Homo sapiens: one gene and its partners. The protein of the gene in region 3 purifies or fractionates together with the protein of the main gene of each other region. This does not show direct contact. Each region holds a gene or a part of one and is shown on either strand. Other genes may lie near its edges.

Region 1 (3,718 bases), on a different chromosome or scaffold from region 3:
GGTGAAAGAGTGGGCCGCTGTGGTTGGGATAGGAATGGCCATTTCCTCCCCGCTTTTCCCCCTTTCCTTCTCCCCAGCCTGGCATCTGAGGCTGTGCCTGGGGGCAGTGAGATGCTCTTTGTTCTGGGGTTCAAAAACTCTCTTCCTCCTCTTGCCCCCTCTTTGATCACCAAGGCAGCCTGCACTTTGCCCTCCATGGTGAGAGGAGAGGGAAATGCTGCTTAGTAGAGAAGCAACCATAAACTTGCAAGGAAAAGAAGACTTTACAAAACACCTGCTGTAATTTAAGCCTCTCCCCTTTTGCCTTGCCCCCTCCTGCCCTTGTCATTCAGATGGGGCTGGTGGTAGCTGCAGGGAGCAGACTTCAGGGGATCTTGTTTCTGCAAGGGGACTTTGATCAAAAGGGCTGCCTAAAGCTGTCTTTCTCTGGGCACCTCCACAAACACACTCATCTTGTCAAGACAAGACAGGCCATAGCAGCCCATGGGAGGAGACGGGTAGGGCCTGTTACTGGAAGAAGCATTTCTTTCCTGAGTTCCCCCATCCTGAGTGCCACTTGGCCAAGCAACCTCTGACAGTGGCATCCTTCTTTGCTGCACTGAGATGTCGCTATGAACCTGAGAGTGGGCGGAATGAGCACTGGAGGAGAGTCAGCAATGCCATTTACTTGCTATGAGACCTCGGTCCTTTAATCTCCTAGTGGGTCAGTCACACAGGGCAGGAATGGTTGGCCTGGACATTCTCCAGTGTTAGACCCTGCTGCATGTCAAAAGCAGGGTGCACTGTAGGATCTTGTGGAACTTCAGAAGACAATGACTGGACATTTAGTCTGAAAAAGACACACATGAAAGTAAAAGTGTTCCTGTGGGTGTGCTAATGTGCTCACAGAGACAGCTTGGTGGCCTTGGTGTGTCTGCTCAGCTCAAGCTGCCAACACTTATTGACACCTTCATGTGCCAGGCACAGTTCCAGGCTCTGGAAACAGGGATGAACAAGATACTCTTTGTGCCCAAGGAGCTCAGCAATCCAGTGTGGAGACAGATGAGGAAATCAGAGATAGTAATGCAATGTTTTGCTGTCCATCTCTCATTACAGTAAGTTCTCTGAAATCAGGACATATGTCTTGTTGATTCCCAAATCACCAGAGCCTACTGTAAACTGGCCTATGGCAGATGCTCAATCAATGAATGTTGTACTACCCTAAAGTACCACACTAGAGGCAATCACAGGGTGCTATGTGCACCCACAGGAGGGACACCTAAACTCAGCTTGGAGAGCAGGTGAGTCCAAGACAACATGCATCAAAGAGGCTGAGATGGAGCATCCAGGCTGATGAGAGGAGAAGTGGAGCCTAGGCAGATGGGCCGGTGAGAAGTCCAGCATGTCCAGGTGAGCAAACCAGGGCTGCTTCAAGAAGGGAAGGCAGATAGGCATGGCTGGGGACAAAGGAAGTCAGCCTGTGAAGGGGCAAGGTAATCACATCTGGATTTGTTAGAGAATTGGAATTTTACTTTGAAGATAGTGGGGAGCTACTGCAGGATTTCACACAGAGGAGAGACTGGGTCAAAGTTTTGTTCTAATACTGTTCTGGCAATAGAGTAAATATTGGAGAAGAATAAGATAGGTGGCAAAAAGACCAGTTAGCATGTTATTGCAGTTTAGGGGATGAAAAAGCCTGAGATTTGGAGTCAGATACATCTCAGCCTCCTTCCCAGCCACACTCCCTGTAACTTGGGCTGTTTAGCAAATGTCTCTGAGCCTCTGTCTTATCTGAAAACAGTGGACTCTACTTCCTCCCTTATGGATGGTATGCATGGTAGACAGGGTTACATACAATGAAGTATGGGAAATGTCTACTACAGTGGTTTATTTGTAATTGGCAAGTCATACTAGTGGCCAGTATTATTTTTAATATTGTTGTGACTTACTATCATCTAGGTGAGAAATAATGAGATTCTAATAAGACACTGGTAATTAGGGTGGAGAATTGGGCAGACTCAAGAAAGCCTTTGGCAATAAAGTTGGCATGATTTGGTGACTGATTGAACAGGGGAGTAAGGGAGGGGCAGGAGTCTAGGATGATTCTGACATTTTGGCCTGGCATCCAGTGGGAAGGATAGTGGGGCTATTCATTAGGAGAGAGAAGGGACAGGGAGGAGGGAGCAGCATTTATAGGAAGGATGATGAACTCAGTTTCAGATATGTTGAGTTTGAAATATTAAGATAGTTAGGGAGAGATGGCTAGTGGGCAGATGTTTTCTAGGTTTGACATTCCCGAGAAAAGTCTTCAAGATTTACAAGAAAGCTAACTTTTTTTTTTTTAAGAGACAGAGTCTCACTTTGTGACCACGCTGGCATGCAGCAGCACAATCATAGCTCACTGCAGTCTTGAACTTGAACCCCTGGGCTCAGGTGATCCTCCTGATTCAGCCTCCTGAGTAGCTGGGACTACAGTTATATGCCACTATGTCCAGCTAATTTGTAAAACTTTTTGTAGAGCAGGGTCTCACTATGTTGACCAGGCTGGTTTTGAACTTCTGGCCTCAAGTGATCCTCCTGCCTCAGTCCCCCAAAGTGCCAGAATTACAGGCATGAGCTACGGTGCCCGGCCCACAAACAAACTTTAACCAAAGGTAGTGAAGTCATGGCATGGATCAGTTGGTTACGGAGGGTTATGGAGTATGGGAAGAGGAATTATAATAGCTAATGTTTATTGAGTGTGTACTGTATGTTCTAAACACTTTACGTGTATTAATCCTCTCAACAACCATTGTTAGGAAGGACTACTATTGTTTTACCTATTTTACAGCTGAGTAAACCTAGGCACAGAGATGGTAAGTAATTTGCCCAAGGTCACACAGCTATAAGTCATGGACCTAGGATTTTAAGTCAGCTATCAGGATGCCAGGCATGTGCCAGATTGCTTCCGAGAGTGGCAGTACTAGGGCACAACACTGACCTCAGGGAAGGAAGGAGAGAACCCAGTGAAGTCAACAGGGAAGGGGATGTGCAGAAAGGCAGGAGGAAATGGGAGACTGGGATGCGGAAGAGGAGAGTTTCCAGGAGAGGGGGATCAACAGCTTCAAATGATATGGAAGAATGAGAGATCTGAAATGTTCACGGATTTGGAAATTCCAAAGCTATTGACGACTTGGTGAGAGGAGTCTAACAGATGAGGGGAGTCTAACAGATGAGGGGAGCTAATGAACAAATGTGAGGTGAGGAAGTGGACATACCAAACTTTAGCAATTGTTTTTAGAGGCTTGTCTATGAAAGTAACATGCAAGAAAAGACAGCAGCTAGAGGTATTAGGTAGAGACAGTGTTTTAAAGATGGAAAAGACCAGCACGTTTTTTTTGGTTTTTTTTGTTTTGTTTTGTTTTGTTTTTGAGCAGAGTCTTGCTCTGTCGCCCAGGCTGGAATGTGTGGTGCGATCTTGGCTCACTGCAACCTCTGCCTCCTGGGTTCAAGTGACTCTCCTGCCTCAGCATCCCAAGTAGCTGGGATTACAGACACACACTACTATGCCTGGCTAATTTTTTGTATTTTTAGTAAAGACAGCATTTCACCATGCTGGCCAGGCTGGTCTCGAACTCCTGACTTCGTGATCTGCCCTCCTTGGCCTCCCAAAGTGCTGGGATTACAGGCGTGAGCCACCGTGCCTGCCCGACCAGCACATATTATAGAGTGGTCACAAATGGACTATGCACGCTGGGAG
Region 2 (3,718 bases), on a different chromosome or scaffold from region 3:
GTGGGTCAGGCCCCAGCCCATCCCGTGGAGTAAGTGATGTGAGAGGGGCTGTCACAGAAGCCTCTGGATGGAGAGGTGGAGGTGTGGAAATGCTGGGATTCCATGTGTGCTTTCCTCTCTGCGGAGGCACCAGGGCAGGGCAAACTGAAGGAGAGGCTTGCACTAGGTCAGCGTCTCCCACTGTGGGCCTCCTACTCCTGCCCTAGAAATGTCCGGGAGCTGGTTAAAAATGTAGATTTACCGATTCCTGGGCTCACCCCCCTCCCAGACCCAGTGGCTCTGACTGGCAGCAGGTGGGGATCTGCACTTCTGACAGGCTCCGCAGTGGTTTTGAGCCATAGTGGCTGCAGCACATACAGCCTACCCATGTGGTCCCAGGAGGTCACACCTGCCTCTTGCTGTGCCTTTACAGAGCATAGTATCCAAACTGGGACCCCTGCCTCGGATCCTGAGGGACGTCCACACAGCACTGAGCACCCCAGGTAGCGGGCAGCTCCCAGGGACCAATGACCTGGCCTCCACACCGGGCTCTGGCAGCAGCAGCATCTCAGCTGGGCTGCAGAAGATGGTGATTGAGAACGATCTTTCCGGGTAAGAGCTGCCAGCCATGTTGGGTGTGGTGGGTGCGTGTGCAGACTAGGCACAGCCCATCTGTAATCTCAGATGGGGAAAGAGGATGCCTACATAGTGTTTATAAAACAAGCCTGGCAAGACTTGAGTTGTACAGGTCCTAAGTGGTGAACCTCCATTTGGGAAAAATCAGGGAAGCCTTCCTAGAGGAGGTGATGCTATAGGTTTGTTTTGTTTTGGGAAAAGTAGCATTTCCATTGGTGGAAAAGGCATTCTAGACAGAGGGACAAGCACAAGCAAAGACATGATGTGTCAGAGAATAATTGCTGGTCCCAAATACCCCCAGCATTTCCAGATCCCCTGATATTTGTTAAAAATACACATGTTCCTGGTATTTCCTGAGCCTGAGTCAGAATCTCCAGAAGTGTTTAGTTGGGGGTGTTTTCAATAGGAATTCGGTGGCTCTGCCAGGCTTTGAGGCTGGGAACAGCAGAAAACATAAAGTGATGCTGAGACCCAGTCCTGGGGTCTGCTCTGCCTAAATAAGACACACACGGCAGAGTGGAAGGCAAAATGTTCTTGTTTAAGTCAAAATAGAGACATTTCTATCAGTTCATGTTGAAGCATTTCTGCTCTACCCCTACTCTCCCCTCTCCCGCCAGTGATCCTTCTTACCCCAGCATGTGAGGCCGCAGCTGTAGCAGCAGAGTTGGGAGTGTGGTCTCCCCCAAGGTGGTGGCAGGGCAGGCTTTTAAGCAGGGGAGGGTGCTGAGATCAAGAACCTGGGGTTAGGGGAGCCCAGGAGGGGCCAGAGATGCAGGTCCACTGAGTCTTGCATTGGGTCTGTTCAGTGAGTGTGCCAAGTGAAGACAAGCAGAGTCACATGCCAAGAGTTTGGAGTGGGGGGTGCAGTAGACAGCCCTTGAGAGGCTGAGAGGCAGCCGGGCCCGTGAGTTCTGAAAAGACTGACCTGGTGTGTGGCCTGGGCAGCCAGGCCCCCACTGCTCTCCGTCTTTCCTGGCTCATCTGCTGCTCTAGCCAGTTCTCCCAGGCCCGTGAGCACTGCAGCCCATCTCAGGGAGTGGCACTTCCTCTCCGTCTGAGGCTAAGCCAACCCATTCCCCATTCCAAGCCATATCAAGCCCCCCAAGTCCTTGCAGCCTTCAGTTCCCCCCACCCACATTCTTCTCTCCAAAGCCCCCCTGGACCCCGCCACAGTTGTGCTTTCTTCCAAGGAGCTAGCTTCTGGGGAGGGGCCAGGGAGAGGCCAGAGAAAAGCGTAGAATGAGGAGGAGGCCAGGGCAAGTGCAGCCCTCCCACCAAGTCATGCTCTCCACAGAGCCTGCTCTCATTCCTTGTTTTTGCCAGGAACTCCAGCCCCCGCCTGCCAGTCAAACAAGGGAGCGGCAGCAGGAGGCTGGGCAAGAGGAGGTTTCACCGGGCCCCCACTTCAGTTACCAGTCTGATTAGGAACAAGAGGGAAGAGGCAGAGGGAACCCAGTGACTCTGAAGTTGGGGTTCTCAATGCAGGATCCGTGGATAGCAGAGAGCCACTGAGTTGTGGCTTAGGGCTTAGCTAAGGAGGAGTTTTCCAGAGCAAGCCAGGCCCCAGTACCCATTGTCCCAAGATGCAGCTGAACAGGGAAGGGGTCTTCCAGGCAGCGCGGCCTGAAATGTGCAGTGCTGGCCCCTAAAGAAGAGGTTCTGTGCAGGAGCAGCCGCCTCAGCCTCTGGTCCCCGGATTCTCCCACTCCTGCCACCCCAGCGCATCCATCTCCCCAGCGCTGGCTCAGGCTGCCAGGCCCCGGCAGGTTGGCGGGTGCTGTCGGTTTGGACCCGCCTTGGCTGCACTCACAGTTCTTCTTTTCCCCTTCTTTCCCTGTGTGTGCTTGTCTCCCTGCAGTCTGATAGATTTCACCCGGTTACCGTCTCCAACCCCCGAAAACAAGGACTTGTTTTTTGTCACAAGGTCCTCCGGGGTCCAGCCCTCACCTGCCCGCAGCTCGAGTTACTCGGAAGCCAACGAGCCTGATCTTCAGATGGCCAACGGTGGCAAGAGCCTCTCCATGGTGGACCTCCAGGACGCCCGCACGCTGGATGGGGAGGCAGGCTCCCCGGCGGGCCCCGACGTCCTCCCCACAGATGGGCAGGCCGCTGCAGCTCAGCTGGTGGCCGGGTGGCCGGCCCGGGCAACCCCAGTGAACCTGGCAGGGCTGGCCACGGTGCGGCGGGCAGGCCAGACACCAACCACACCAGGCACCTCCGAGGGCGCGCCAGGCCGGCCCCAGCTGTTGGCACCGCTCTCCTTCCAGAACCCTGTGTACCAGATGGCGGCTGGCCTGCCGCTGTCACCCCGTGGCCTTGGCGACTCAGGCTCTGAGGGCCACAGCTCCCTGAGCTCACACAGCAACAGCGAGGAGTTGGCGGCTGCTGCCAAGCTGGGAAGTTTCAGCACTGCCGCGGAGGAGCTGGCTCGGCGGCCCGGTGAGCTGGCACGGCGACAGATGTCACTGACTGAAAAAGGCGGGCAGCCCACGGTGCCACGGCAGAACAGTGCTGGCCCCCAGAGGAGGATCGACCAGCCTCCGCCCCCACCCCCGCCGCCACCTCCTGCCCCCCGCGGCCGGACGCCCCCCAACCTGCTGAGCACCCTGCAGTACCCAAGACCCTCAAGCGGAACCCTGGCGTCGGCCTCACCTGATTGGGTGGGCCCCAGTACCCGCCTGAGGCAGCAGTCCTCTTCCTCCAAGGGGGACAGCCCAGAACTGAAGCCACGGGCAGTGCACAAGCAGGTCAGTGCTGCTAGTCAGAGGGCAGGGCTGGGCACTTGGGCCCAGCTGGGGCTGTCATACCCCATACCATGCTCCTCCTCTCGGTCATTTCACCTCCACCCTCACCCAGCTGCCATCCCATCCCACCAGCCTGCCACATGCGCCACCACCCCCTCCCCCTGGCTTCTTCCTGAATCCTGTGAACCAGGGACACTGTAGCCTTGGGGAACTCCAGGCTCCTCTGTCAGTGCCCCTAGGGGCAGGCTGGGGTCAGAGAGAAAGAGGAGGAGAGTGCATTCATCTTCGGTTCCAAGCCTGTCGAAGCGCCTACCCAGCTCTGCCCCCACACGCCCCTCCCAAAATGTTTTCACAGGCTG
Region 3 (4,186 bases):
GCAGAAAAACAAGGGGGAAGTGCTTGCAGGGGTATCTTTCTGCAGAACCAGCAAATCCCCAGAGGAGGCACTCGTGTATTGCTGGTTACAGCTAGATCTGCTCTGCTTGTCAGACGCTGGGGAGATGGTCACACACAAGACTCTGATCACATGTCTTCTTTCCTTGTCCTCAGCTCCCCTTTATCACCCCACCAAGTAGCATCTGATTCCTTCATCCAAGGAAGAAAAAGCTTCCATCTCAAACCCTTTGCAATCAACTAATGCATGTTAGTTATTTTAGAAGTTCCTGAAACTTCCAATTTAAGCTAAGGCTTTGAAGACTTCCAATCAAGTAAAAGACATTTGTGTGTGTGTAAGAGAGAGAGAACTGTGATGTGATACAAGCTATTAATGCAATAAATGTAAAACCTTATGAAATCCAGGAAGATTGTAACCATTCAGCAATAAATATCCACAGCACAGAACAATTTGTGAGTTTAGTATTTTATAAATTATTTCTGAAAGATCTGACAAAAAAGTATTTGCTCAACACAAAAATATATTCACTTCCTTATATCAGTATACACTCTGAGGAGTTTATATCAGCTTTGCCATCAAAAAAGCAAAATGCTGAATAACAGGGAAACCAGTAAAGACACTAGTGCCCAGGAGAGACAGTCATTTGATTTTTAGGCCAAGGAAGGCTGAACAGTGGCCAACTCCGCGTGCTCTCCACCCTCTCTTCTTCATTGGACACTAAACACTAGAGTCAATTCAAGGGTAAATTGCAGTAATATAGATGCTTTACAATTATCCTTTTATAAGAAAGGAAAAAGCTCTGTGCTATTAAATCAATAAAAGTAGACTTAAGAAGACTTGTGAGTCTGTAAAGTGATTAACACAATTCTAATGACCTCTTGCAGCCCTTAATTACAATAATATCTCACGTTGTAAGTGCACAATGCCCTTTTATTAAAGCTGCAAACCTTAATAGCTTTTAGCAGGGTGATGGTCTGTGCTACTGATTATTGTTTTCTTTATTTTTCTTTCCTCAGACAGACTCGGCTAGCTTTCCCAGATAAGACTATTGACGTTGGATGTTACCTAATTGCTCTGCTATCCCACTCCATATTAAACACTAACACAGAAGCAAGACTTCCACAAAGTTGCCAGTCTTCCTACCTGTCTCAATTCTTTTGCATTTTAATTCATACTGTTCAAAATAGCCTTAAAAATAAAGAAAAGGATTCTTCATGCATTTCCCCTTGACATATAGAACAAGAAAATATCCTAGGTAAACCAAAGTCTAACTAGTTCTTTAGGAAAGAAGTAATTCTTGGTGAGTTACTGAACGCTTCAAATGTAATTAATTTTTTTTCTTAGCTCTTTTCTCCCATAACAATTTGCCTTTATAAAGACTCTCTTAAAACTATTTAGATATTGTGTCTATGCAAACTTTCCTTTAGAAAAAAAGACTGCTACTGCTCTTAAACTCTTAAAATACACATTTTTTGTGTGAGGTGTTATCTGCTTTTAAAAATACATACTTGTCACTTGGCAAGGGCCATATATTAACAAGTCACTTACATTTTTCTCTTATTTTTTGTATAAAGTTATGTTTATCTACTTCTCTATGAAAAATGATCTGAACACCTGTCTAGTAGCTACAGAAATTATGAGGACAAGTCTTACGTAAAGGTCTCACTTAATAAACGATCTAATAGAGACAAGATATTTATTGCAAAGCAAAAGATGTTATAAGTACATTCCTCGTTCAATTTGCAGATCTCCAAAGCCTTGATACACCCAATCCTTGATGGTTTCTCAATAGTTTGCCATTTGCCCAGTGCTGGGTGAACTCATTGCCAATCTTTACTCACCTGAACTATGACATTTAAGAAATCCGTAGGGTTAACGATCTAAAACGTGAAGCGGTACAGAATAACGGGTCTTTTCTCATTAATCCACACTGGAAGGTTGAATACCGGCAAGTAGCAGTGTACCATGTGCACCCATGAAGAAGTCCACCATGCATTCAGAGAAGCAGGGCGCCCTTTTCCCAGCGCACACTTAAGGTACTGCCAGGCGGAGGGGACGCAGGATGCAGATGAACCAGATCAGCAGAATACTAATTACAGGGGAAAAAAGCAAAGCACCCTGAAGTGAGCTCCACCTTCACGAAAGGTAAAAGGTGTCCAGAGCGAATGGTTCAAAGGACTCCTGCCCAAAGCGGCGCATACCCCCTTCCAGCCTCAGACCTCTGCAGAACCCGGCGGCACAGCCGGCGCGGAGTTGTGCCCCCATCAGTCCGAGGTTGAGGGAGGAGCCTGCTTGTGGTCCTCTTTGAGGAGAGTGCTCCAGCCTGCCCATGTTTGCCGCTGCACCTGGAGAGTGCCGGGATTTGCTCTTACCCTCAACTACTACTCCTCGTGTCGCACCTGGTGTCTGTCAACACCGGCTTTCCGGGCCAAACGCCCCCGCCTCCGTCCACAAGCCTGTCCTGCCTTGCAGAGCCACATCTCACTGCAACACGCAGTAACTTGGGGACGCCAAGGGAAACTCCACACGGACATCCCCGCCCGCTCTCCGCTCACTGATTAGTCCTGCTTCCAAAGGCGCACAGCAAGGGCGCACATCTGCCCAGCGGCGCCTCCCCAGCCCCGCGCAGGCAGACACACTCACCTGGGGCCTCGCTGCCCTCCCCACGGCGTCAGACGCCAGGGACCCGGGCGTGTGCATCCGAAAGAACGTGCGCTCGGCTGCCGGACGCCCGCGGGCTCTTGGGGACCCAGTGCGCGCAGCTCCGCGCGCGGGGCAGACTGGAGGAACCGGCTCGACACCCGCTCGGGCCCGCCCGGCACGGGCTCCTCCTCCAATCACAGCCCACTCCGCGGTGCGCGGGGACCCTGCCCCGGCCTCGGGCGCCGGGGGCCCGCTGCGTCTGCTCACTGCGAGGGGCCCCTCCGGCTCGCCCGGGCAGCTGAGACGCAGGGTCCGGAGCCAGCGGGAGCGCGCGGCCAGAGAGAGGGCGAGAGGGCGCGCAGGAGAGGAGGAGAGAGCGCGCCGGAGCCGGGGCCGAAGAGGGAGGGGAAGAGGGCGACGATGGTGGGCGGCGGGCGCCTGCTGTCAGCGCTGTCGGAGGCCGGCCCAGGGAGCCACTGAGACTTCGGCGCCTCCCAGAGACCCGGTGGGGGCTACTGGAAAAGAACGCGAAGACGGAGCCGCTCGGCCGCCACGCGCGCACACACACACGCGCGCACCCTCGCGCACCCTCCTCCACCTCCCGCCTGGCGGATCTGTACAGATGGATTCCTTCGCAGGAAAATAAAGAAGAGGGGTGAAAGTAGGAGGGGCTGCAGCCCATCCATCTCTCCGTGAGGCATTTGCATCTGAAAGCACGGAGCTGGAGGAGAGTTTTGAGGGTATTTTCAAGCTGCCCCTCCAACACCCACCTTAGCCTGTCGTGAAAGCCGTGATCAGTTGAGCTCCTGAGGCATGAAGGCAAAGTCATAAAACTAATCAGAACTTACAGTTTTCTTGCTTGATAGTTTTGCCCTTTCAATCTCCTCGGACTGCCCTAGTTCTACTTTTTTTTTTTTTTTTTTTTTAACTTGCAGACAATTTTCTCCCCTGCTGGGCTCTCTAATGCTAAACTTCCAAAGTGTATGATTTACTCGCAGTGCGGGACAGAGGACCCTTGCAAGGTGTGGAAGGAAGGAAAGAAGGAAGGAAGAGGATCTGGTCTTTTCTTTAGAGCGCGGTGCAGCCCCTGGAGTTGAGCACGCTTTGTTTTCCCCTGCTCTGGTGCTCGCTTTAATCTGATGACTGGGTGTTCTGTCATAGGGGTTAGGAGGGGGAAGAGATCATTTCCAACTACCTTCCTTTCATTTTTCTCACTCTACCAATGGAAAGTGTCCTCTTTCTCTTACGCACTTATTCTTACTTAACCTTAGCAGTAATTCTTCGGATACCAGTTACATGGGCTTAGGCTTGTCCGTACCATTATCTCTGATTTCTTGTGCAGTCAAGCACACTTTTCTGTCCCCAGTCCAGCCTCTCCTGGCTATTTAACTGGCGCCATGCCTCCCCCACCTCGCCCATTCAATTTAGTCAATGTTTAAAACCGAATTCTATGCTAATAATTCTGACAGCAATTATGGACTCCTGTTAAGTTCCAGATACCATCCTATGTTGCTTACCTAACATT

What was found.
Region 1: the proteins of CDH7 (region 3) and EVA1A fractionate together in Homo sapiens (co-fractionation; one large-scale study listed by BioGRID). This does not show direct contact.
Region 2: the proteins of CDH7 (region 3) and DAB2IP fractionate together in Homo sapiens (co-fractionation; one large-scale study listed by BioGRID). This does not show direct contact.

What each region holds. Positions count from the first base shown.
Region 1 is NC_000002.12:75,550,792-75,554,509, reverse strand, and holds part of EVA1A (protein eva-1 homolog A), read left to right. Parts: intron 1-3,718. UniProt on the Homo sapiens protein: Acts as a regulator of programmed cell death, mediating both autophagy and apoptosis.
Region 2 is NC_000009.12:121,770,134-121,773,851, forward strand, and holds part of DAB2IP (disabled homolog 2-interacting protein), read left to right. Parts: intron 1-412; coding exon 413-591; intron 592-2,473; coding exon 2,474-3,362; intron 3,363-3,718. UniProt on the Homo sapiens protein: Functions as a scaffold protein implicated in the regulation of a large spectrum of both general and specialized signaling pathways.
Region 3 is NC_000018.10:65,749,626-65,753,811, reverse strand, and holds the start of CDH7 (cadherin-7 isoform 1 preproprotein), read right to left. Parts: upstream 2,801-4,186; 5' UTR 2,662-2,800; exon of another isoform or gene 1,860-2,661; intron 1-1,859. UniProt on the Homo sapiens protein: Cadherins are calcium-dependent cell adhesion proteins. They preferentially interact with themselves in a homophilic manner in connecting cells; cadherins may thus contribute to the sorting of heterogeneous cell types.